Regions from separate parts of the Homo sapiens genome. Here all the other regions are linked to region 1. The links come from fine-mapping of genetic effects on gene expression. A gene starts in region 1. Each other region holds a variant in brackets. All regions are shown on one strand. Distances are from middle to middle. Region 1 holds the start of CMTM8 (CKLF like MARVEL transmembrane domain containing 8). Region 2 overlaps CMTM8 (CKLF like MARVEL transmembrane domain containing 8). Region 3 overlaps CMTM8 (CKLF like MARVEL transmembrane domain containing 8). Region 4 overlaps CMTM8 (CKLF like MARVEL transmembrane domain containing 8).

Region 1 (5,922 bases):
GTCTTTATCTCACCTAGATTAAAAGACAGCCACAATTCTTTACTGCTCCTCCCATCCACAGGTGGTATCTGTTTCCCCTCTGCGTGACTCTGGCTGGCCTTGTCATTCATTGGCTTAGACCAATAGAATGTGGTGGAAATGAGTCCGTGTAACCTTCAGGGCTGGGCCTTAAGAGATCTGCTTCTGCATTTGCCCCTCTTAGAAAGTCTCTTCCAGTAGCCAGCTGCCAGGTAGAAGTCCAACCACCATGAGCTTATCATACTGTTAGAAAGCCCAAGTTGAAAGGGCACTGAAATGCTCAAATGGGAATGAAGACTTTTTGGACTTTCTGGCCCTGCCAAGTCACCAACTGAAAGCAGCTGAGTAAATGACTCCAATCACACCATGCAAAGCAGAAGAACCTGCCAGCCAAGCCCTTCCCAAATTCCTGACACAACAGATTTCTGAGCAAATAAAATGGTGATTTTAAGCCACTAATATTTTGTGAACATTTATTACATTGCAGTAGATAATCCAAGCATACACTTATGTCATTCATGATTTCCCTTGCAGAAAATTAGTATATTAGAGTGTCACCCCAGACCTTACCAAAGGTATTATGTAATATATGGTACATGCACATTTTACCTTTCTAAATTGAAAAACAAAATCTGAATTTAGAAATTCATCTGACCCCAGGAATTTTAAGAGAGGATTGTCCTTTGTTAATATTATGGAAATAAAGTTGTCTAGACTCCGTCTTTTACGTTCACTAAATGTCATGCATAATGCTTGAGTCTCCTCCAGCCATTTCATGTATGTATCTCTTATTTCCCCAAACTCATTAACAGTTTCTCTAAAGCAGCAGCTAACTTCAGCATGCATCAGTGTCTTTTGGAGGGCTTGTTCAAACACAGCTTCCTGGCTCCACCCTCAGAGTTTCTGATTCAGAGGGTCTGGGGGTGGGGCTTGAGACCTTGCATTTTTGATAAGTTCCCAGGGAACTTACCTGCTGTTGGTCCAAGGACCACTTTGAGAACTACTGCTCCAGGGAGAAGTGCTATATTTTAAATTTTAAGAATTTACCCACCAGCCCAAGGTGCTTACCAAATGCACATGGATGGAATCTCTCCAAATCTACATCTTTGCCATGCTTTTGAAGCCTTAACTTTTACTCCTGGAGGTCTTCCTGGCTAGGCCCTAGACTTAAAAGACACTAATTCCTTGTTTTATTTTATTAGATTGTCGTTTTTGCTTTCTTCTCAGCACACTTGATAAGACACTGTGAAGAAAATGTCCCTTCTGATCTCGTTTTTAACCTGTCTTGGAACAGATCAGCAGAAATGCCTTCACTGTGAATCAAAGATACCCTCGATTTATAGCCAAAGATTATTTCCTTTTCTTTTGGTGGCTTCCAGATAAAATGTTTCTTGCTACCCTTTCACAAAATAGAAGGAGGGACCAAGCGGAAGATAATCTTTTTGTTCAGAGGTCCATCTGTCAAAGCCTGCATTTTAGAGATGGCATTACTGAGGTCCAAAAACTAGAGCCACTCGCTCTGGGTCATACAGCCGATAAACGCACGCAGCCGAGCTCAGTTCTTCCCTGACCCTGTTACAAACTGCCTCACTAAATGAGGACCCCCATCCCCTTCCCATGCCAGGAAAGCACAGCTCATTTGTCCTAAAGTTAACATTACACAAATCACACCCTTCAAGCCTTCTTGAAACATTTTTTTTCCCCGAGGGTGACGGGACGGTTACGCTGATTCATCCTGGCCAGGGACCCCAAACATCTCCCCTCCTCCGGCCCAGGCGCCGTCACCCAGGCTCCACCGGTCCGCGGGACAGAGCCGCGGAGAGCGCCTGGAAGCGTCGCGCCCTCAAAGCCAAGCGATTAAGTTGGTTCCTCAAATTGTTCCCGACAGGAGGGGCAGGAAATAACACCGGGCTCTGGCGGCGGCCGCAGCAGGAGGGGGAGAAGAGCGGGCCGTCTCCCGGGCAGTGCTGGCGGCCTCTCATCGATCTCGGGTCTAAGGTCCGGCCGGGTCATCATTCCTGCCATTTCCACAGCATTCGAGGTACCACATCACCCCCTGCCTCGGTCGTCGCTCAGTCATTCCCTCCGCGCCGAGTCCTGGAGCGGCGGAGTCCCTGGAGGCCTGGGTTTCCTTAAGGGGCCCCAATGCCCGCAGCCCCCGACCCGCCCAGGTGGAAGGAAACAGGCTGCGGGCCTGGGCCAGGCGGGGCCTGACAGAAGTAAAGGCCGGGAGGGGGAGCGGAAGACGGCCAGAAGGACCCCTGCGCCCTCTCCTCCGCGCCGCCCGCCAGGCTGCCAACCCAGCCACCCTGGGTGCGACGCGGCGCCTTCTCCGCCGCTGGGAGTCGGGCAACAGGTGAAGAGGGCGGGCGTCCGCGGCGCCTCCGCGGGGCGGTCCCTCTCCTGCCCGCCTCCCGCCCGCCCCTCTCCCCGCCCCCTCCCCTCCTCCGGGCCTCCACCGCCTTCCCCGGCTGCCCGGCAGCCTCCCCTCGCTCGCTCTCCTCTTCCTCTAGGGCCCCAGCGCAGCTCGGGAGCCCGCGCACCGAGGCGCTAGGGGCACCGCGCACTAGAGGGACACCCGCCGCGCCTGGACAGCCCCCGGCGGGCGCCCCCCTCGCACCTCCTGCCCCGCGCGGGCCGCGCTCCCCTCCCCCGCGCCTGTGTCCCCAGGGCGCAGGGCCGCGCGTCCAGCCCCAGACCCGCCGGGGTCCCTGGGGACGCGCCAGCCCGGCAGTGGCTCGACGATGGAGGAGCCGCAGCGCGCCCGCTCGCACACAGTCACCACCACCGCCAGCTCCTTCGCAGAGAACTTCTCCACCAGCAGCAGCAGCTTCGCCTACGACCGGGAGTTCCTCCGCACCCTGCCCGGCTTCCTCATCGTGGCCGAGATCGTGAGTGCCGACGGGCCGGGGGTGGCGGGGGGCTCAGCTGGACCCCGGCGCGTGCTTCCGCCGTGCTTCTCGGGATGGAGCCTGCTCAGATCTTCCCGCGGGCTTTAGGGAACCGTTTTTGCTCAGCCTCGCCTTCTTCCCAAAGTGAAAGACTCTAAACAAGGTCCAGGAAACTCGGGCTGTCCTGGGAAGAAAGGGTTGTGATCCTCAGGATGTCTTGCTGTGGGAGAAATTCAGCTTGTTGGGTCCTCTCGGTGGCGGCGGCAGATCCTGGGAGCAGGAAGCTTGGCTTAGTGGCTATTGAGTTTGTGTTGAGTGTCAGAGACACCTGGTGCCTTTCTCACCTGATCTCCACGTGGATGGCCTCCTCCCTGAAAATAAAGCTTCCTAAGATCAGGGGAAGAGGAAAGGGCTTCTTTCTTTTCCTAATTATCTCCCTGGTAGTAACATTGAGGTGAGTCAGGAAAATTTTACTGAATAAAATCTGAGTGCCATAACCTATTTTAGGACCAAAGAGGTCTTTTGCATGGTGCTGTGCACATCCTGGTTTAGGCTCAGAACATTCCTGGGAAGGAGGCAGGGCATGGGCGTTCTTCTCTTCATTGGAGGGCATAGAGGCTGAAAACTCACGTGATCTTCCCAGAAGTCCCAGCCAGTCCTTCATAGCTGAGAAAGGACTGGAGTCCTGTCAGCAGTTAGAGGTGGTCACTGTTTGAGTCTTCTTCGTGTACCAGGATCTTGTCAAGCCCTTTAGATGTCCTCATACCCTCGTGTAATCCAACGACCACCCTCCCCTGTGAAGGCCTAGAGAGGGGACGTAAATCACACCGGTGGATGGTGAAGCATGGATTCAAACCCAGGCCTGCCTTTCTGCAGGGCCGTGCTCATAACTGCAAGCAGTTGAGACAGCTTCCAGCTGCCCCAGCAGTGCCCCTCTGTCATCTCTCACAGACTTTTGTTAAATATTTGGGAATTGAAAATGAGCCTATGTGGGAGTTAGAGAATGGGCACACCATCATGGTGCAGAAGTGACTGAAGACCTGGGCGGTTCCTTTGAGAAACCTGAAGTAAATCTTGTGTACCTCAAGTAGCTTGCTTGCTCCCCCAGTCTCAGATACCACCCGGACCTGCTCTATGAAGCCCCTGGTGGTCATAATGCACATAAGGTATGAGAAGTGTTGGCTTAGCTCCTCTCCCAGCTGGTTCCCTCAGCGAGTATTGAGGACTTCAGGAGACTCAAAAGCTGAAGGTATTGGAATCGCCTTGCAGGGCCTAGCTTTTAGGAGTTCAACAAATATTTGCTGTGCAAATGAAGGAGTTGGCAGGCTCCTCTGCTTCAGCAGCGCAAACAAAAGCTAAAATGACAGAGATGGGCCTTCTACCTTGGGGTGGATTTGGGCCAGGCATGAAGTATAACGCCTTTGGGTTTTTTTCTGATTTATTATCGATATGCTCTGTGTACTGCGCTTTTTCAGGAAATACAAAAGTGAAAGAAATGTAAGTGGCCCACAATCCCATTACTAGAAATAATCACTGTTGACATGTTAGCATGTATCCTTTTAGATTTCATTAAGCGTTTTGAAAAAGATGGGAAAACATGTAAGCAAAATCACCCTTATTACTACTATAGTTTTTATTTTTGACAGAGCTAATTATGCACCTTTTTTGTTTGTTTTGTTTTGTTTTGAGACAGGGTTTTGCTCTGTCTCCCAGGCTGAGGTGCGGTGGCACCATCATGGTTCACTGCCGCCTTGACCTCTTGGGCTCAAGCGATCTTCCCATCTCAGCCTCCCAAGTAGCTGAGACCACAGGCATGCACCAACACACTTGGATAATTTTTAATTTTTTTCTAGGGACGGGGTCTCTCTGTGTTGCCCAGGCTGCTCTGAAACTCCTAGGCTCAAGCAATCCTCCTGCCTTGGCCTCCTAAGGTGCTGGGATTGTAGGCATGAACCACTGTGCCCCACCTTATGCACATATTTTAAAGATTCGGTCCTACAGGCAGAAATATAAGTTTCTCCCAGTGTCTTCATCTCTTTGAGCTCTAAACAACGTGTTTATAATGCTGTTTATTGGTGTTCCCTCACCCACCCAGTCATAGACATTATCCATTGCCTTTCTACTCTGAAAGATGAGGCTTTAGCTGGGATGCCCTCTTCCCTGCCTCCAATTATACATACCCTCTTCCTGTCTCCCAATATAGGTCCAAACACTTCTGATGGTTCAACTTAGGAATTTTCAGCTTTACAGATGTTGTAAAAGCAGTATGCATTCAGTAGAAATCATACTTCGAATTTTGAATTTTGGTCTTTTCCCAGGCTAATGATATTCGGTAGATATTTTTTCATGATGCTGGTCAGCTCTCAGCCACCCATGCCATCACCAGCGCAAACCACCCATCCTCTCCAGCATGCTGTGCTGCTGGGTGATTCTGCCAGCTGTAGGCTAACCTAAGTGTTCTGAGCACGTTTAAGATAGGCTAGGCTTAGCTATGATGTTTGGTAGGCTAGGGGTATTAAATGCATTTTTGACTTCGGATACTTTCCACTTAGGATGGGTTTATCAGGATGTAACCTCATTGTTAAGTCAAGGGGCATCTGTATAGTCTTCAGGTGATTTGGGTTAGATCAGCAGCCAGTGTTGACCTATGACACTGTAAATACCACTTACAACTGACCCAGTGCGTAGACTATGAATGCTTTTCCTTTCCTGCCCAATTTCTTGTTTGCCCTGGTGTTAGTAATTCTCTTTTCTCATTTCATAATTTCTCCAGATATTTAGTCACTAATTTAACCCTAGTTGTTTAAGTCTCCTATCAAGAAGCTGAGAGACATCAGGTATTCTGTCAGAATCGTCTTCATGACTGGCCTCTCTGGGAGCCTCTGGCCTGGTGGCCTGCACACAGCTGGCCGACTGGGCTCTCCTGCACCATCACTCTGAAGATTCTCTTCCTTTCTTTCCTGGGTTGGATCCTCTGCTTCCCATGTCCAGTGTCCTCTGTCTTGCTTTGCTC
Region 2 (5,922 bases), 64 kb after region 1:
AACATTGTCTGACAAACCCAGCAAAGATCATCTAATAATCTAGGGGAAAATGTAGCAATGTTTTTCTGCAGACTGCCAGATAGTAAATATTTTGGGCTTTGTAGGCCAAAATATGTACTGTCTGTAGCTACTTAACTCTGCCATCATAGTGTGAAAGCAGCCACGGGTAATACATAACTGAATGGATACAGCCACTGTAGGTGCTGAAAAGGGATGATGCCTTTCTTCTCCATCATAAAAATCATGGCCAGCACCTCTATAACAAAAAGGTTAACAGACAAAAGCATAACACATTTCTTTGATCATACTTTTGCGTGACACAGCAGTCTTCAGATCGAAGACCCAAAGATACAGGGGAAGCTATCCATTTTTATGCTTCAGTTTGATGATGAATGGATAGCTGTGTGGAACTGTGGTTGGACCAAAAGGGTGTGATCTAATGCTAATAGGCTGAGCGGGGGAACCCAGCAAGGGCTGTCTGTTCAGATTCTTCTTGGACTCTCTGCAGCATAATTTCCTTCCAGGTATGGGGCAGGACCCTTTCTGGAATGGGGGTCTTATGAACTACAACCAAACAAGGTCAGTCAGATTATTTCTTTGTGGCCAATTCTTACACAGAAAAGTAGGGGAAATTTTTAGATTTTATGGCTGGCTTTGGGGAAAAGGGTTTTGGTTTCCATGATCTCCATTGGGGAAGAGGGATTCTAATATCTGTGCTTGCCTTTTTGGGGGAAAGGGGGAATGAGGCTGAGAGGCAAGCAGGACAAGGTCAGAGAAAAACTGCTTCTGAGCCCTTACTTTAGGGTATTGTCTTCTGAGCCCTAACACTGTTCCAATAAAACTTTATTTAGAGACACTGAAATTTGGATTTCATAGCATTTTCATATTTCATTTTATGTTATAAAATATTCTTTTAGGCTGGGCACGGTGGTTCACGCCTGTAATCCCAGCACTTTGGGAGGCTGAGGTGGGTGGATCACCTGAGGTCGGGAGTTCAAGACCAGCCTGACCAACATGGAGAAACCCCATCTCTACTAAAAATACAAAAAATTAGCTGGGCGTGGTGGCACATGCCTGTAATCCCATTTACTTGGGAGGCTGAGGCAGGAGAATTGCTTGAACCTGGGAGGCGGAGGTTGTGGTGAGCCGAGATTTTGCCATTGCATTCTAGCCTGGGCAACAAGAGTGAAACTCCATCTCAAAAAAAAAAAAAAATCTTTTAATTTTTTTCAACCATTTAAAAATATAAAAATCATCCTTCACTTGCAGGTCTTATAAAAACAAATGGCTGAGATTAATAAATTGCAAATGATTTTTGTCCAGTTAAGATGGGAAGGATTTCTTATGGCAGAAAAGGAGCATCAGGGGTACTGCTATATGCCAGGTAGGACATTAACCCGGTTTGTTTCTAAGTTTCCAGCCTTATCCCGGCATTCATCTTTCCACAGATTTTTTGCCCTACTTAGGTTTCTGTGCCATCCACCTTTGAGCCAGCTTTGTCATTCTGCTTAAGTTGACAAACTCATCAAGTTACAGAATCTTTAGCATATGCATACTCTATATGAGTCAAGAGCTGACCTTTTCAAAAAAAAATTATACTTTGACAGCTGTATATATATATATAAAGCAACATAAGACATTTTAAATAACAATATATAAATTTCTATCCTGTTGTTTTTAAAACTAGAAACAGGGCAATTAAATAATCATTCAATATATGGGCAAAAGGATTCCACCTTATCTTTCCCTCCTGCCAGTGGTGCAGAAAGTGGTCAAGGGAGAGTGGTGGATGAAGAGGGATAGGGGAGACACAGCCCTTGGGAGGGGTCCTCTGTCTACCTGGACTTGATCAAGCTGCAGTATGACTCATCCCGGCATCGGTGACATTGCACTGGGGATTCCTGAAATCTCATACAGTTTTCCATGAATGATTTTGGTTTCCATCCAGCAGTTCTTATCATTGATATGAAACAAAAAAAAAAAAAGAAAGAAAAATAGTATTTTTCAGAGGGCATTGGTGTGAAAAGGCAGGTGATGTCAGAGAACATTGGACTGAGTGTCAAGAGGTTTCCATTTCGAGTCTGGCTAACCAGCCATGTGACATTGGGTAAATCACAGTACTTTTGTTTTTGCATATGTCAAATGAAAAGCTTGAATTCATAGTCATTAATATTCTTTCTGGTGCTAAAATTTTTGCAACAAAAATAGAATAGACCCAAATTCCTTTCGGTGGAATTAAGAGTGATCACTGATTGCTGACTTTTTTTTTTTTCTTAATAAGAATAGCATAGGCCAGACATGGTGGCTCATGCCTGTAATCCCAACGCTTTGGGGGGCCAAGGCAGGAGACCAACATGGGCAATTCCTGTCTCTACAAAAAAAAAAAAATTTAATTAGCTGAAATGTGGCACGTGTCATAACTACTTGGAGGTGGGGGCTAAGGTGGGAGGACTGCTTGAGCCCAGGAATTGGAGATGCCGTGAGCTATGATTGCACCACTGCACTCTAGCCTGGGTGACAAAGACCTTGTCTCAGAAACAAAACAAAATACCCCCACAAAATAACTACCTTGAAGTTAATTCTTTATTGGAACAAGTAGCACAGCATTGGATAGAAAAGTACAAAATGCAATTTTCTGCCTCTGTATGCTGTTCAGTTTATGGTTGTTCCCGACATCTTAGGTCACTTTCCAGTTCAAAGTTAGTTTTAAGTCTGAGAGCAAAGATTTCCTTGCCTAAGGGAGGATTAGATGAAACAAGGCTCCCAAAAGGCGATTGGCCCCCTGACAAAGCTGGAACAGTGGTGAGACAGATGGAAGTAGAAGAGAAGGAATCAGAGGCCCTTTTGAATTTAGAAGTGGACTTGTGAGTGCTAGGATTTCCCTGGGTTTTTCAAGCCCAGAGAAGAAATTGGAGCAAATTTCACAAGGCATGGGTTTTTCACCTATTTGAGGAGGTGAGGGATCTGTTGAGAAAAGAAGAAAGCTAAGGTCCCTCTCCTTGGAAACCTGTGCGCACACACACGAAGTGTATGAAGTACCTGTGCGCATACACACCAAGTACCTGAAGTCTGTAACTTCAGGATCTTTTAAGACCCA[T/C]GGCATGAAGAGATTGGCTGAATTTGAACAAAGGAACCCTGGGGCATTAGATGTAGAACTTTGTTGTCTTTGGAGAGAGACCTGGTCTCACACTTAAATACCCAGGTGGCCCCATTTTGTTTTATTAAACCAATTTCGTCTCTTTGACCCCCAGCTCTTACAATCACATGCCCGATTGCACAGCTTTCTCCCTTCCAGCAAATCCTTTTTGATCACTATTACATAAACTCTAAATTGAGTGTCCAAATTGCAGGCGTCTAGGATCCAAAACAAATGTAGGTTGCAAATAAGTAAGGTTTTTAAAAAAGATCTTTGTCTTCTTAAGTTGCTGATAGTTACTGCTTGCTGGGAACTGTAGGCCTTTCCTGGCAAGATTTCTCAACATTCTCTTGAGAGCAGTTGTGTTAACAAGTTATGAAGATTACTTTAATGCTTTGCTTGGAATTCATTTCGTATCTGCATAAATCTTCAAGGCCATTATCATATCAGTGAGATATTTCTAGTATTTTTGAGAACTCTGATGCATCAAAATGTCTGAGTTCAGCTCGTTCTTAATGTGGTGACAGGGTCAAATGTGTTGGTTTAGATTCAGGTGTTTCGTTTTTGTTTTTATCTTATGCCTCCAAACACTTAAAAGTAAATTGGGTCGCTTATCTTCAAATTTGAGGCAGGAAATACTGTTTGGTTCTCATACTTTCTTCCCGTATGTTTCATTTCTGAAACATTCTGGCTTGTTTACACATTGATGGTAACCGAGCTTCCCCCCTCCCCCTCCCAACTGTAATTTTGAAAAATTTCAAATCTGCAGGAAAGTAGAACAATATAGACTCCTTCGCTTAAATTTTGTAGACTCCTCACTTACATTTGCCAGCTCACATTTTTTTACATCTGGTTTCTCTCGCTGTGTGAATGTGTGTGATCTTATTTTTGTTGTGGTTGTTGTTAAACCACTGGGAAGTTGCAGGCCTGACATTTATTCCCTAGGTATTTCAGTATGTATTTACCAAAAATCATTAAATAACTATTAAATTATTTAAATTAATTGTAATACCTTCATCACACTCAAGGAATTTAGCATCAATTCACTAATATGTGATGCAGTCCATATTCAAATTTTCTACTTTGTCCCAAGAATGTCCTTTACTTCAGCCTTTTGTTTGAGGATCCAGTCAAGGATCGACAGATTTCTTTTAGTTGCCATGTTTCTTTAGTCACCTTTAATCTAGAAAAATCCTCAGCCTGTTAGACCATTTGGGTAAGAATACAGCCCAGGTGGTGCTGGCATGTATCTGGTTGTGATCGCATGATAATTGGTTGTACCAAAATCAGTGTTGCTAAGTTTGGTCACTTAGTTACAGTAGCATCTGCCAGGTCTTATAAAAGGGACCCTATTCTCATGTAAAAGTTTGGGTGTTGGCAGGGGGCTGAAAATGGGTGTCCTATTCTGAGACAAGGAGAATGAATTTTCCCCCAACAGCCTTGGCCTCTCTGATTGTAACATCCACTGATGTTCTTCTCAGCTGTACTTTGATTTGTTGTTGGAGATGGCATGGGGGAAAGGAAAAGTATAAAGGAAATGTATTCCAGCAGATCTTTGTAGAATCAATTCCATTGCTCCTTTATTTGTATAGTTACAAGAAATGAATGATGTGAGTGCTCTGTATTTTCTAGATTGTCATACTCAATCTATATGAACAAAAGAAGCTTAGTTTACTTCTGTCTCTCCATAGAGAAACCTCCAAGGCAAATATTTGTCTGGAGTTAGTAGCCTGCAATGATTACCGAAGGTCCAGATGAGGTTATTAAAATGCCTGGTGTTTGCCCTGGTGGCACACACAAGATAAATGAGGCAGAATTCTTTCAGCTTGGTTACATGTTGGTTTTTCATGTTCCAGTTAATAGTACAGAGTAGGAACATCTGCTTTAGCAGGTCCAGCTAGATAAACAGCTTCTGCAGTATAACAGAAATCAGCAGCCTATGCCATTGACTTAAGGAGACAGATTTAAACTTTGTAAATAAAAGGTTTGACTAAAGCTTATGAGGAGGAATATTTCTGCATAGATGAGAAAGCTCAAGTGAATTTTGTATTTAATCTTTCCCCATAGGGTAGTGAACTAAAACATTAGTTTTGGGCTAGTGGCTGAGAACCATCTCTTTAAGACAGAAATATTTTGGCAATCTAAATCTCCCTTGGGCGGCATTAGGTAGAGAGTGATGTAATTCCTAATCTCAAACATTTTTGTTTCAAACATATTAAATGTTTCTACAAAGCCATCTTCGAGTTGTGGCTTTATGGACTCAAGCGGCTAAGGCAGTGGTTCTCAGTCAGGGTGCAGTTTTTTTCCCTAGGGAACATTTGGTAATGACTGGAGGCTTTTTTTTTTTTTTTTCAGACGGAGTCTCGCTCTGTCACCCAGGCTGGAGTGCAGTGGCGTGATCTCTGCTCACTGCAAGCTCAGCCTCCCGGGTTCACGCCATTCTCCTGCGACTGGAGACATTTTTGATTGTCACAACTAGGAGGGTGGTATTGGCATCAGGTACAAAATGTCACTGATGGCAAGGTTGGAAAAACTGCTTTACAGGATAGAAAGTTATTTTACTGACAAATATGTGCAGTGTATGAGATACTGGGTGTTCCAAGAAAATGAAGTCCTGGACCCTGCCTTCAAAGCTGGTTATATCACAGCTGTTGACAATCACAAAACTATGGTAAATACACTTTCTTATTCATCTACGAGCCTTAATGATCTGAGAGGAGATGGCACAGCAGGCTATAAGTAGGAGCCCCATTTGGGCTGGGACTTACCAGATGAGTAGGCATTAG
Region 3 (5,922 bases), 41 kb after region 1:
AAAGGACTCTATTACCCGAAGTTATGTTACTTGTTCCAATGAAGTCTTTATTTTGGAGAGGCCTGTGGACCAGAAATGATACTGGGCCCCAGACCAGTTGTGTTGGCCTATACAGTGTTGAAAATCAGAATTAGTTGCCAGTAAGTAAATATCAGATATTATAAGAAAATCTAGATTTCCATGATCTCTTGGAAAATTGGACAAATGCACAATACTGAGCCCATAGTTCCTCATGGCAGTAATCCTTTGGAGCCAAGAAGTGGCTGCCCTCTGCATGTAAGAGTGTTGGTCAAGATGCATGTTTGACTGTTGTGACAAAGACCAAAACAAGTGGCTTAAACAAGGTGGAAACTTGTTTTTCTGTCATGACAGTCAAAGCACTAATTGCCCAGGGCAGACATGATAGCTCCGTGGTGTCAGAGACGCTGCCCACTTCTGTCGGTTTTCCCTGTTCTCTGCAGTGGGTTCCATCTTCTGATCCAAGATACTGCTTCATTTCCCACCATCCTGTCTGCTCCAGCCTTCAGTAGGATGGAGAAGTAGAGGATCCCTTTCTTCAAGATCCAACCTGGAAGTTACATGTATCATTTCCTCTGGCATCCTGTTGGTCAGAATGTACAGCATGGCCACATCTGACTGCAGATGAAGCTGGGGAAATGTGGTCCTCATCTACGTGGCCATGTGAATAGTTAAAACCCACTTCTTACTAAAGGCAGAATGTGAGAGCGGATGGTATGGACAAACTATATTCTGTGCTGTGAGGGGCCTTGCAGTCACCTATTTGCTGCTATTCTCAGCTCTCTCCAGTCTTCCCGTAATTGAGGTCAAGAGTCATTGTCATTTATTTTCTTGTAACTGATGTGTTTCACTCATTTATGTTACCTGCTTGGTCCCTGTAGGCATTTGAGTTTGCATTCTCAGCTGTGCCCTGATCATCTCTTTCAACACACCTCCATGCTTTTATATTTGTTGCCGCCTCTGTTTAGAATTACCTGGCCTCCCTTTCAGGCCTGGCAAACTCCTTCTCAGGATAACGCAGCCCCATGCTTCCCTTCCCAAATTGAGTTATCTCTGTTAACCATCCTAATATATAAGCTGCCAATTTTACATAATACCTTTTAGTTTACTTACCTTTATATACTTGATGCCCAGAACAGCACTGGGTACATAACAGACTAAGGGTCAGTCCTGTTTACTGAGTGTTCATTCAGTGAAAGACACTTCCTAGAACTTAAAAGCATTTTTAATATCTAACAGTGAAATAGTGTATTAGTCACAGCCTGTACAGCTGTAGATGATGGAAACGTGGCTAAATTGGCTTCCATGACAACAAAAAGGAGGAGCACTTACTGGCTCGTGTATCTGACAAGCTGAGCTATGTGTCAAGCCTCAGGTATGGCTGGAACCAGGAGTTCAATAGATAGCAGGACTCAGTCTCTCTTCTCAGTGTCTTGGCTGTGCTTTCTTCTGAATAAGCTTCATTCTTAGAAAGAGTTTCTCTGCATGATGATGACAAAGATGCCACCCACGGTTCTGTATTTTTCTTATAATTAGTGATTTTTTTTTTTAATTTTTTTTTTATTATACTTTAAGTTTTAGGGTACATGTGCACATTGTGCAGGTTAGTTACATATGTATACATGTGCCATGCTGGTGCGCTGCACCCACCAACGTGTCATCTATCATTAGGTATATCTCCCACTGCTATCCCTCCCCCCTCCCCCGACCCCACCACCGTCCCCAGAGTGTGATATTCCCCTTCCTGTGTCCTTGTGATCTCATTGTTCAATTCCCACCTATGAGTGAGAATATGCGGTGTTTGGTTTTTTGTTCTTGCGATAGTTTACTGAGAATGATGGTTTCCAATTTCATCCATGTCCCTACAAAGGACATGAACTCATCATTTTTTCTGGCTGCATAGTATTCCATGGTGTATATGTGCCACATTTTCTTAATCCAGTCTATCATTGTTGGACATTTGGGTTGGTTCCAAGTCTTTGCTATTGTGAATAATGCCGCAATAAACATACGTGTGCATGTGTCTTTATAGCAGCATGATTTATAGTCATTTGGGTATATACCCAGTAATGGGATGGCTGGGTCAAATGGTATTTCTAGTTCTAGATCCCTGAGGAATCGCCACACTGACTTCCACAATGGTTGAACTAGTTTACAGTCCCACCAACAGTGTAAAAGTGTTCCTATTTCTCCACATCCTCTCCAGCACCTGTTGCTTCCTGACTTTTTAATGATTGCCATTCTAACTGGTGTGAGATGATATCTCATAGTGGTTTTGATTTGCATTTCTCTGATGGCCAGTGATGATGAGCATTTTTTCATGTGTTTTTTGGCTGCATAAATGTCTTCTTTTGAGAAGTGTCTGTTATTAATAATGGGAGACTTTAACACCCCACTGTCAATATAATTAGTGATTTTTTTAAGAAACCATAAATCTATTGCTTCATAGTGGTAACCAAGCACTTCGTAGTGGCCACCAATCAGGAGGAAGTCCCTGATTGACCTAGCTCAGGTCACATGGCCATTCTCAGTCCAGTCAATGTGGCCAGGCATAAGTGAGGGGGGAGAATAGGGTCTGGAAGCAGGGAACCTAAGGCTGATTCACGCTGATTTCCTAGAATGGAATTAAAAGGAAAACCCCAACTTTCCATGCCCAAGTAACAAAAGGATCATAAGCTACTTCCTTTGCACCCCCACCCACTTTTTCTTCGTGGCAGATGGAAAATGGAAAGTACTCTGATTGGTCCCCTTCTGCAACCAATCAGACTGGTCGTGGGCCTAGTCTTTATTTGCATAGGGGTATAACTTTGTAACTTCACTTCAGCCTTTGATTGGTTGCCTTCTGCAATCAATCAGACTGGTCATGGGCCACTTCTTTATTTACATAGGCTGTAACCAAGTAACCAGTGAGAAACCTCTAGAAGGTATTTAAACCCCAGAAAATTCCATAACCAGCATGCTTGAGCCCACTCCCATACTGTGGAGTGTGCTTTCGTTTCAAAAATCTGTAGTTTCATTGCTTCATTTGTGTGTTTTGTCCAATTCTTTGCTCAAAGTGCCAAGAACCTGGATGACTCACAGTCAAGACCCGTCACTGGTAACATAAGTAGTCTGGCCATACCTGGGTCATCTGTCTACTTCTGGTACCTGGGGTGGAGTCGACCCTACTCAAATTACATTGAAGGAAAGGTAGGTCTCCAACACGAGAGAAAATAGGCAAAAAAAAAAAAAAAAAAAAAAAAGTGACAATTATATTTGGAACTACCTTTGTCTCATTTTATAAATAAAGCAGCTGAGGGTGAGAGAGATTATCGTGACCTAAGGTCACAACCAGGAGGCGGCAGAAGTGGGATTCACACCAGATCTTCCTGACTCTAAATGGTAGACTGTTAATTCAGTGCACCCAACTATTTCTGAAGGGAGTTATCCTGGAACTCCCCAAGCCCCATCTCTGCATGGGGACAATCCTGAGGTTTGATGCTCCTGTGTATGACTATTAGTATGTAGAGATACCTTGTAGGCCCACCATGGCAGGATTTTGTGTAGGAGCACATGTTTAGCTGTAAGCTCTGTTTTCCCTGGCACCTCTCTAGTGGCTACACTGTACC[T/C]GAAAATATTTCTCTTACCCATCAAAAGAACTCTTTACATTAATAAAAGTTGGAAGAGTCAGGCAGCTGGATTCGTCTCTTCTCTTGGAACGTTTTGATTAATTTAGCACATGCATTCTCATCAAGGGGTGGTGTTGCTTGCAAGGGAGCAAAAACTGGTTCTTGGGGGTAGGGAGGGAAATCTTACCTTTTTTAAATGAATAAAGTACATATATACATGTAGTATCTAAATAGACAGTTTATCTGAGATGTTAAAATTTCCTGGAGATAATATGCTGTGATGAATGCCATCTTGAAAACTGTAACATATCTTCCCTCCAGAAGATATGTCCCTCATTCTTCAACAGTTGTCACCTTTTTTCTCTGCTCCACCTTGCAGCAAAACTTCTTGAATGAGTTGTCTTTATTTCCTAATTCCTCTCATCCCACCTGCTCCTGACTGAACCCTCTCCAATCAGCCTTGTCACTAGTCTACCCAAACAGCTCTTACCAAGGGCACCAGTGACGTCTGTTTTGCCAAGCCAAATGGTCAACTTTCAGTGCTTATCATACTGAGCCTGAAGGCCACATTGACACAGTTGACCCCTCCCCTCAATCCTTTAAATATCTTATTTTCTTGGCTTCAAAGGTCACTGTCCTAATTTTTTTTTCTTATCTCACTGGATGTGTACCTCATCTTCTTTCCTGGTGCCTCCTTATCTCCCCAACTGTAAATACAAGAGTGCCAGGGCTCAGGCCTTAGAACATTCCTCTTTTCCGTCTACACTCATTCCCTCAGAATCATGGCTTTCAACTCTCTCTATAGGTCCTCATTTCTAGCCCCAGCCTAGACTTCTCCCCTGGATCCCAGATTTGTATCTGCCCACTCACCATCTCTTCTGATATGTCTCATAGGCAACTCAGGCTAAGTATCAGTTTTGGGTTAATACAGAGAACAGAGAAACATATTAAAAGAACCCATGAGGACACAGTCAGCAAAATCTAGATTGTGTGTACGGGACAAATGACCCAGTTTTTTCAAAAAATAAATTTTAAAGAAAAAGGAATAGAGGAGATGCCTATAGATTAAAAGAGATTTATGAGATAAAAGTCAGTTGCAATATATGTACCATATTTGGATATTGATCCAAGCAACCATAAAATAATTATGAGATGATCAGGGTTATTTGAATATTGACTGGATATTGGATATTATCATTAATTATTTTTAGCTATGAGAATGGTGATTTGGCGATATTAGAAAAAAATTAAAAAAATATATACCCAGAATGTTATCAATTCTTACCACCTGCAGTATTATCACCCTCAGCCAAACTAACATCCTCTCTTGTATTATTTTTATATTGCCTCTTAGCTGATTTCCCTGCCTATAACCGACCCCCTACACCGGTCTGCTCTCAGCACAACAGCCAGAGATATCCTGGTAAGATGTGTCATGATATTCCACTTCCCATTGCATTTGGAGTGAGAGAGCCAGTCTGTTCAGTTTCAGTCTGCAAGACCCCATGGGTTCCTCCCTTACCTCTCTGACCTTATATCCTGCGCTCCACTCCTGGGTGAGCTGCTCTGGCCCCCTTGCTGCTTTTGTGACACAGCAAGCATGCTCCAGCTCTAGGTGTTTGTATTTTCTCTTCTCCCTGCCTAGAACCCACTTTCTCCAGGTCTTATTTCAGCACCTCCTTTCCCTGAACATTCTGTGTAATAAGTTAACCCTTATCTCCTTAGCCTGCCTAGTATTTTTCCATAGCATTTGTTACCATCTGATGTATGTACTGTTTTTTTGGTCTGATGCTTCCACTAGAACATGAGTTATGTGAGAGTAGAAACTGTATTTTTCATTGCTGTATCCCTAGTACTTAAATTGCACATAACACGCACTAAATAAATGTTGAAAGAAAAATAGTTTTTCATACAGGGGGAGGAAATGTTTATAAATGCTTAGGGGGAGCATGATAATGAAAAAAGTTGAGAATCCCTGCTTTAGCCTTGGGAAGCATGTGGTCATCTTGTCCCTGCTATTACTGTTGTTACTGTATTTACATTTCTCTGTCTTTTCCACCTTGGGATAGTCCGTTTTATCATGTTATAACGTGTCATACAGCAAAACTTTGTGAATTGGCTCCAATTGGGGGAAGAGTCATTTGAGTTTCTTCTCTTCAGACTGAGCGCTTGCTATCTGGCTTCTGTGCTGCAGTCGGGGAGCTCACATCGCAGGCGCATGTAATGTGACCAGCACGTCCCCCGGGAGTTAGCTTCCTTCCCCATGCATGAGCTGGAGCCTGCGGAACAGGATGGC
Region 4 (5,922 bases), 20 kb after region 1:
TGTCACCTAGGCTGGAATGCTGTGGCTCAAACATGGCTCAATGCAGCCTCAGCCTCCTGTGCAGGTGGGATCACAGGTGTGCACCACCAAGCCTGGATAATTTTTTTTTATTTTTTGTAGAGATAGGAGTCTCACTTTGTTGCCCAGGCGGGTCTCCAATTCCTGGGCTCAAGGAAGCCTTCTGCCTCGGCTTCCCAGAGTGCTGGGATTACAGGTGTGAGTCACTGTACCTGGCTGCATTCAGTGTTGTTAATAAGAGACTTGATGGTCTGGTAGTATCTAAACAGGCCTGTTAGGCTCAGTACCTCCCAGACCTTGTCCATTCATGAATGTGCATTCCCACAGACTTCGTTACAGCAGAGTCTTGTGTGAATGATGTCTTGCACTACTACCCATGCAAATGTAGCACTGGTGGTGTAGCAATAAATTGTAGGTGAAATGGGAGTGTTATATACAGGAGAAATGGCTTATGAAAGGCAGTTTTGTAACCATGTAAGATAATTATAGGGAAGTTTCTTCAGGTTGATGTGGTTTGGAATAAAAGATTGTTAAAGGCTTCCTTCGAGTTTCCCAAGTCCTGGTGGGATCTCTCCCTGCCCTCACTCTAATCTGGGAGGACTTAGGGAGACAAAGTTCCTTCTCTCAAGACAGCTCTAGCCTGATATTTCCTGGTGTTCCCTGCTGAGAATATATTCCTTGCATCTATTGCAGTAAACTGTAACTTCTATAATGTTTGTCAGAGGGCTAGCTTTCACTGGGCTTCAAATCCACTCCTCTGTGGGAATCAGGTTCTCTTTTCCTTTTAAGTAACTAAATGGTCTTTTTTCCCTCCCTAGAAGCTTTTGAAATTGTTTCCCTATCTTCAGGGATCTATGGTGATATCTCCCTAGATACCACTGTATGTCTGGAAGAAGCATGATCTCAGATCACTGCAACCTCTGCTTCCTGGGTTCAAGCAATTCTATGTCCCAGTAGCTGGGATTACAGGCATGGCCACTATGCCCGGCTAATTTGTGTATTGTTGTTAGAGACGGGTTTTTGCCATGTTGGCCCAGCTGGTCTCAAACTCCTGACCTCAAGTGATTCACCCACCTCAGCCTCCCAAAGTGCTGGGATTACAGGAGTGAGCCACAACACTGGAAAGGCATTCTTTATTTGTCCTCCTTGCCACTTTTTGGGCTCTTTATAAGTACTATACAAATCTAGCTTCGGCATAGGGAGATTTCTCTTATTTTCTGCATTGGTTCTTTGTTTTCTCCACTAAAGGAATCTTTATTCAATCCAGGAGGTCCAGGAGAGATTAAACTGTCTTCAATATCTCCTAATTTTTCTTTCATATTTCTCTTTGTACTTTGCAAATAGTGTAATTTTCTAGAAAAATTACACTTTAAGCCCAAATTCAAATTTCCAGTTAAGTATGCTCTGCCTTTCAACCCATCTATTGCTTTATTATGGTTTTAATAGTTTTAATTCCCAACAATTAGTCATTCTAAAATGTTTGCTTTTAGTCTGATCTCTTTTTTATTGAATCACTTTAAGGATCTTGAGTGTATTTTCTTTGTTTACCGAGAGACCACTTCTGCTTGTTGAATCTGTTGCTTCTCCTGTGCTGTTTTCTTCAGTCATTTGGTGATTAATGGTTGTCCATGTTTGTAATAGTAGATGAGATGACTGGAGACTGTTTGCTCAGCTTAAGTGAGAATCTCTGTACCTCGGCAGTGAATACAGGTTTTCATCGTGTGATATGCATCTGGTGGTTTTTCAGAGGAAAGGAAATATTGGCAGGGCTGGGAGGGGGAAGCTAGGGTAGTGGGGCTGCATGGGCTTTCTTAAGATGTGTGCAAATAGCTTATTGAAGCATCTGGAAATCTCAAATCTTTATCCTGGGGACTATTTCCAGAAGTCGCTGCTGGAGGGAGGGGGGCTTTAAATGTACTCTTTAGCAGATTACCCTTAACTCATTCCCTCTCCAACTTTGGTTATTGCTTCTAATCTTTGGTTTATCTGGGGGTCTGTTTGGAGGACTGTTTTTTTCAGTAGGTCCTCTATTTTCTGCTCCAGAGCTGCAGACAAGAAACTCCCTTGCTTATCATAGTTTGTTCTCAAGTGCCTTCCAGGAAGTTCTCACTGCTCCAGACTGCTGTTGCTGCTTTCTAGCTTTTCGGCACTACTACGTATTTTTTTAATTTGGGAGTGGGAGACATTTCAGTGGAATTTGGGAAGGATAAAGAGGTCCTAGCTACAAAGAAGTTCAGTAGTTTTGTTATTCACTTATAGACATTTTGAACATATATAAGGAATAATGACCCTCTTTCTGTGTTGTGAATATTTTTTCTAGCTTGTCCCTTAGTTTTATTTACAGTGCTTTGTTTTTTTTGTTTTGTTTTGTTTTGTTTGTGATAGTCTTGCTCTGTCACCCAGGCTGGAGTGCAGTGGCATGATCACAGTTCACTAAAGCCTCGACCTCCCAGGCTCAAGTGAGCCTCTCACTTTAGCCTCCTGAGTAGCTGGGACTACAGGCATGTGCCACCATGCCTGGCTGATTTTTTTAATTTTTTGTGGAGATGGGGTCTCAGTTTGGTGCCCAGGCTATTCTCAAACTTCCGGGCTCAAGCAATCCTCCTGCTTTGGCCTCCCAAAGAGCCATAGTGACTTTATTTACAAAATCTAAAGTTTATCTTCAAATCTCTCAGTCTTACTGTTTTCCCCATGTTGGGTGTCATCCTTAGAAAGTACTATCTCACTACATGTCGGCAAAGCCTGAGTTCTGTCCCCTCGCTTCCCCACCCCACTGCCCCCGGACAGCGTGAGCTTCACCACTCGTTCCACCTTCTCCTCCAACTGCCAGTC[C/T]GTGGGCTCTGTCCAGGGGCCCAGCTACTGGCATCCAGCCAGTCAGCAGTGCAGCAAGCATCTATGCAGGCGCCGGAGGGCAGGGGGTGGCTCTGGTTCCCGGATCACCGTGTCCTGCTCCACCAGCTTCCAGGGTGGCATGGGGTCCGGGGACCTGGCCGCAGGGACGGCCAGGGGTCTGGCAGAAATGGGAGGCATCCAGAGCGGGAAGGAGACCACGCACAGCCTGAACGACTGCCTGGCCTCCTACCTGGACAAAGTGAAGAGCCTGGAGACCGTGAACTGGAGGCTGGAGAGCAAAATCCCCTGAAGGGACCCCAGGTCAGAGACTGGGCCATTACTTCAAGACCATCAAAGACCTGAGGGCTCAGGTCTTCTCAAATACTGTGGACAATGCCCGCATTGTTCTGCAGATTGACAATGCCTGTCTTGCTGCTGATGACTTTAGAGTCAAGTATGAGACAGAACTGGCCATGTGCCAGTCTTTGGAGAATGACATTCATGGGCTCTTCAAGGTCATTGATGACACCAATGTCACTCGGCTGCAGCTGGAGACAGAGATCGAGGCTCTCAAGAAGGAACTGCTCTTCATGAAGAAGAACCATGAAGAGGAAGTAAAAGGCCTACAAGCCCAGATTGCCAGCTCTGGGTTGACCGTGGAGGTAGATGCCCCCAAATCTCAGGACCTTGCCAAGATCATGGCAGACATCCAGGCCCAATATGACGAGCTGGCTCGGAAGAACTGAGAGGAGCTGGACAAGTACTGGTCTCAGCAGATTGAGGAGAGCACCACAGTGGTCACCACACAGTCCGCCGAGGTTGGAGCTGCTGAGATGCCACTCACGGAGCTGAGACATGCAGTCCAGTCCTTGGAGATTGACCTGGACTCCATGAGAAATGTGAAGGCCAGCCTGGAGAACAGCCTGAGGGAGGTGGAGGCCCGCTACACCCTGCAGATAGAGCAGCTCAACGGGATCCTGCTGCACCTGGAGTCAGAGCTGGCACTGACCCAGGCAGAGGGACAGCACCAGGCCCAGGAGTACAAGGCCCTGCTGAACATCAAGGTCAAGCTGGAGGCTGAGATCGCCAGCTACCATCGCCTGTTGGAAGATGGCGAGGACTTCAATCTTGGTGATGCCCTGGACAGCAGCAACTCCATGCAAACCATCCAAAAGACCACCACCTGCCGGAGAGTGGATGGCAAAGTGGTGTCTGAGACCAACGACACCAAAGTTCTGAGACATTAAGCCAGCAGAAGCAGGGTACCCTTTGGGGATCAGGAGGCCAATAAAAAGTTCAGAGGTCATTGGAAAAAAAAAGTATTATCTCGCTAACAAAGCTAAATATAATGAACTATACGTTAATATTTTGCCTATATTTTTCATGTGCTTTAAAATATTTAACTTTAATATTGAAATGCATTTCAGCAGAAATATAAAGTTGGGCTCTAATTTTGTTTTCAAATGTCTACTCAGTTGTCCCAACATTTCATATTGGTAAATTCATTGTACATTCCCTTACCTGGATTGCTTTCTGTTTTTCATTTACTACTTGTATGTGCTTGGGTTCAACTGTATACTTTCTAGTCTGTTCTACTCTTTGTTTCAATGTTTTAATACCTGTAGTTCTAGATTACATGTTAACATCTGATAGGATAATCTATCCCAGCTGTGATTTTTTTAAAGTTTTTTTTTTTTCCCCCTGTTTTCACATGTTTATATGTTTCTTCTTCAAGTAGAGCTTTATAATTTTTTTCACAGTCACAGCTGGTGCCTCCTTTCCTTTGTTAGATTATATTGGATTTTTATATAACACATAGATTAATTTTGGGAAAATCATTTTATACTACCCTAGTTCCTAAGAGGGAAACTTTTCAGCTATTTCTTTGTCTCAGGTTATGTCTTAGTATTCATTCTTAAGCTCCTCAAGGTCTTTCCCAGTCTAAAATGCTATGAAGGTTGGATACAGTGGCTCATGCCTGTAACCCCAGCACTTTGGGAGGCCAAAGTCAGAGGATTGCTTGAGGCCAGGAGTTTGAGACCACACTGAGCAACGTAGCGAGACCATGTCTCTACAGAAAATTTAAAAATGAGCCAGGTGTGGCGGTGCATGACTGTAGTCCCAGACACTTGGGAGGCTGAGGCAGGAGGATTGCCTGGGCGACAGAGTGAGACTGTGTCCATCTCAAAAAAAAAAAAAAGAATAAAAACTAAGAAAACAAAATGCTATGAGTTTTACAATCCAAGTTAATAATACATATCTTGTGTATTGTCATAAAAATGTGTTAAATATTTACCGTGTGCCAGAATCTGTGTCTAGCCCTTAGAATATAGTGGTAAATAGCACCTTTCTATGTTTATTTAAACAAATGATCAATTATAGGAATTAAGACATGTAAAGAAAAATATGCTTAAAAATATATTAAATTATAGTAGGAAAAACTCAAGTTTTCAAATTTGAGGTGAAATTCAAGAGGCATTTATTCCTTGTAGGCATTTGGTCCTTTATTCACCCCATAGAGAGGGTTAAATCTAAAATTTGACAGGAAAATACCATTTGTTTGTTTGTTTTTGCTAAGATTTATGAGTAGCACTGTTTCTAGGAAGGTGCCCGTACTTTTCCTTAGATGAGCACTCTACCATTTAAAGGGTTTTCACGTTCATTGTCTCAGTTGATAATAAACCAGTCCCAGGTTATGGGGAATCCCTCCTTTCTTTCATTTCCATTTCTACTTGAACCATGATTTGAGGAAACAGTTCTTAAATAACACATGAATGAGTCAACCACACCCTTGTGGAGTTCAGTGTGAAACAAATGCCATCCGATTGCTTGTCCATCCTCTGTACACACCCATGAGATTCATGGTGCCAGCCTAGTAATATGTCCCTTTCATGGGAAAGTAGAATATTCATTGTCTTAGAGTTCAACTGAAGATGACAATCTACTGTAGCTGGTTGAAGCCGCAAGGGATTTATTATGCATCATTAGTTGGCTTCCAAAATTTTTGGTAGGGTTGGAGGAGCAGGCTCTAGGCTGAGCTTCCAGGAGCACCTACTGGAATCATACCATGGA

The links.
Region 2: its variant is fine-mapped to the expression of CMTM8 in whole blood (INTERVAL, PIP above 0.99).
Region 3: its variant is fine-mapped to the expression of CMTM8 in whole blood (TOPMed, PIP above 0.99).
Region 4: its variant is fine-mapped to the expression of CMTM8 in whole blood (TOPMed, PIP 0.93).

What each region holds. Positions count from the first base shown.
Region 1 is chr3:32,236,211-32,242,132 of GRCh38, forward strand. It overlaps CMTM8 (CKLF like MARVEL transmembrane domain containing 8), which reads left to right and starts at 2,470. Exons shown (of 4, transcript NM_178868.5): 1 at 2,470-2,909. The coding sequence starts at 2,763. RefSeq lists a silencer at 2,274-2,483.
Region 2 is chr3:32,299,761-32,305,682 of GRCh38, forward strand. All of the region lies in intron 1 of CMTM8 (CKLF like MARVEL transmembrane domain containing 8), which reads left to right. Among named protein-coding and RNA genes, the nearest start is that of CMTM8, 64 kb to the left of the region's middle. The variant T/C (reference allele first, on the strand shown) is at 3,098.
Region 3 is chr3:32,277,611-32,283,532 of GRCh38, forward strand. All of the region lies in intron 1 of CMTM8 (CKLF like MARVEL transmembrane domain containing 8), which reads left to right. Among named protein-coding and RNA genes, the nearest start is that of CMTM8, 42 kb to the left of the region's middle. The variant T/C (reference allele first, on the strand shown) is at 3,627.
Region 4 is chr3:32,256,134-32,262,055 of GRCh38, forward strand. All of the region lies in intron 1 of CMTM8 (CKLF like MARVEL transmembrane domain containing 8), which reads left to right. It also overlaps the pseudogene KRT18P15. Among named protein-coding and RNA genes, the nearest start is that of CMTM8, 20 kb to the left of the region's middle. The variant C/T (reference allele first, on the strand shown) is at 2,851.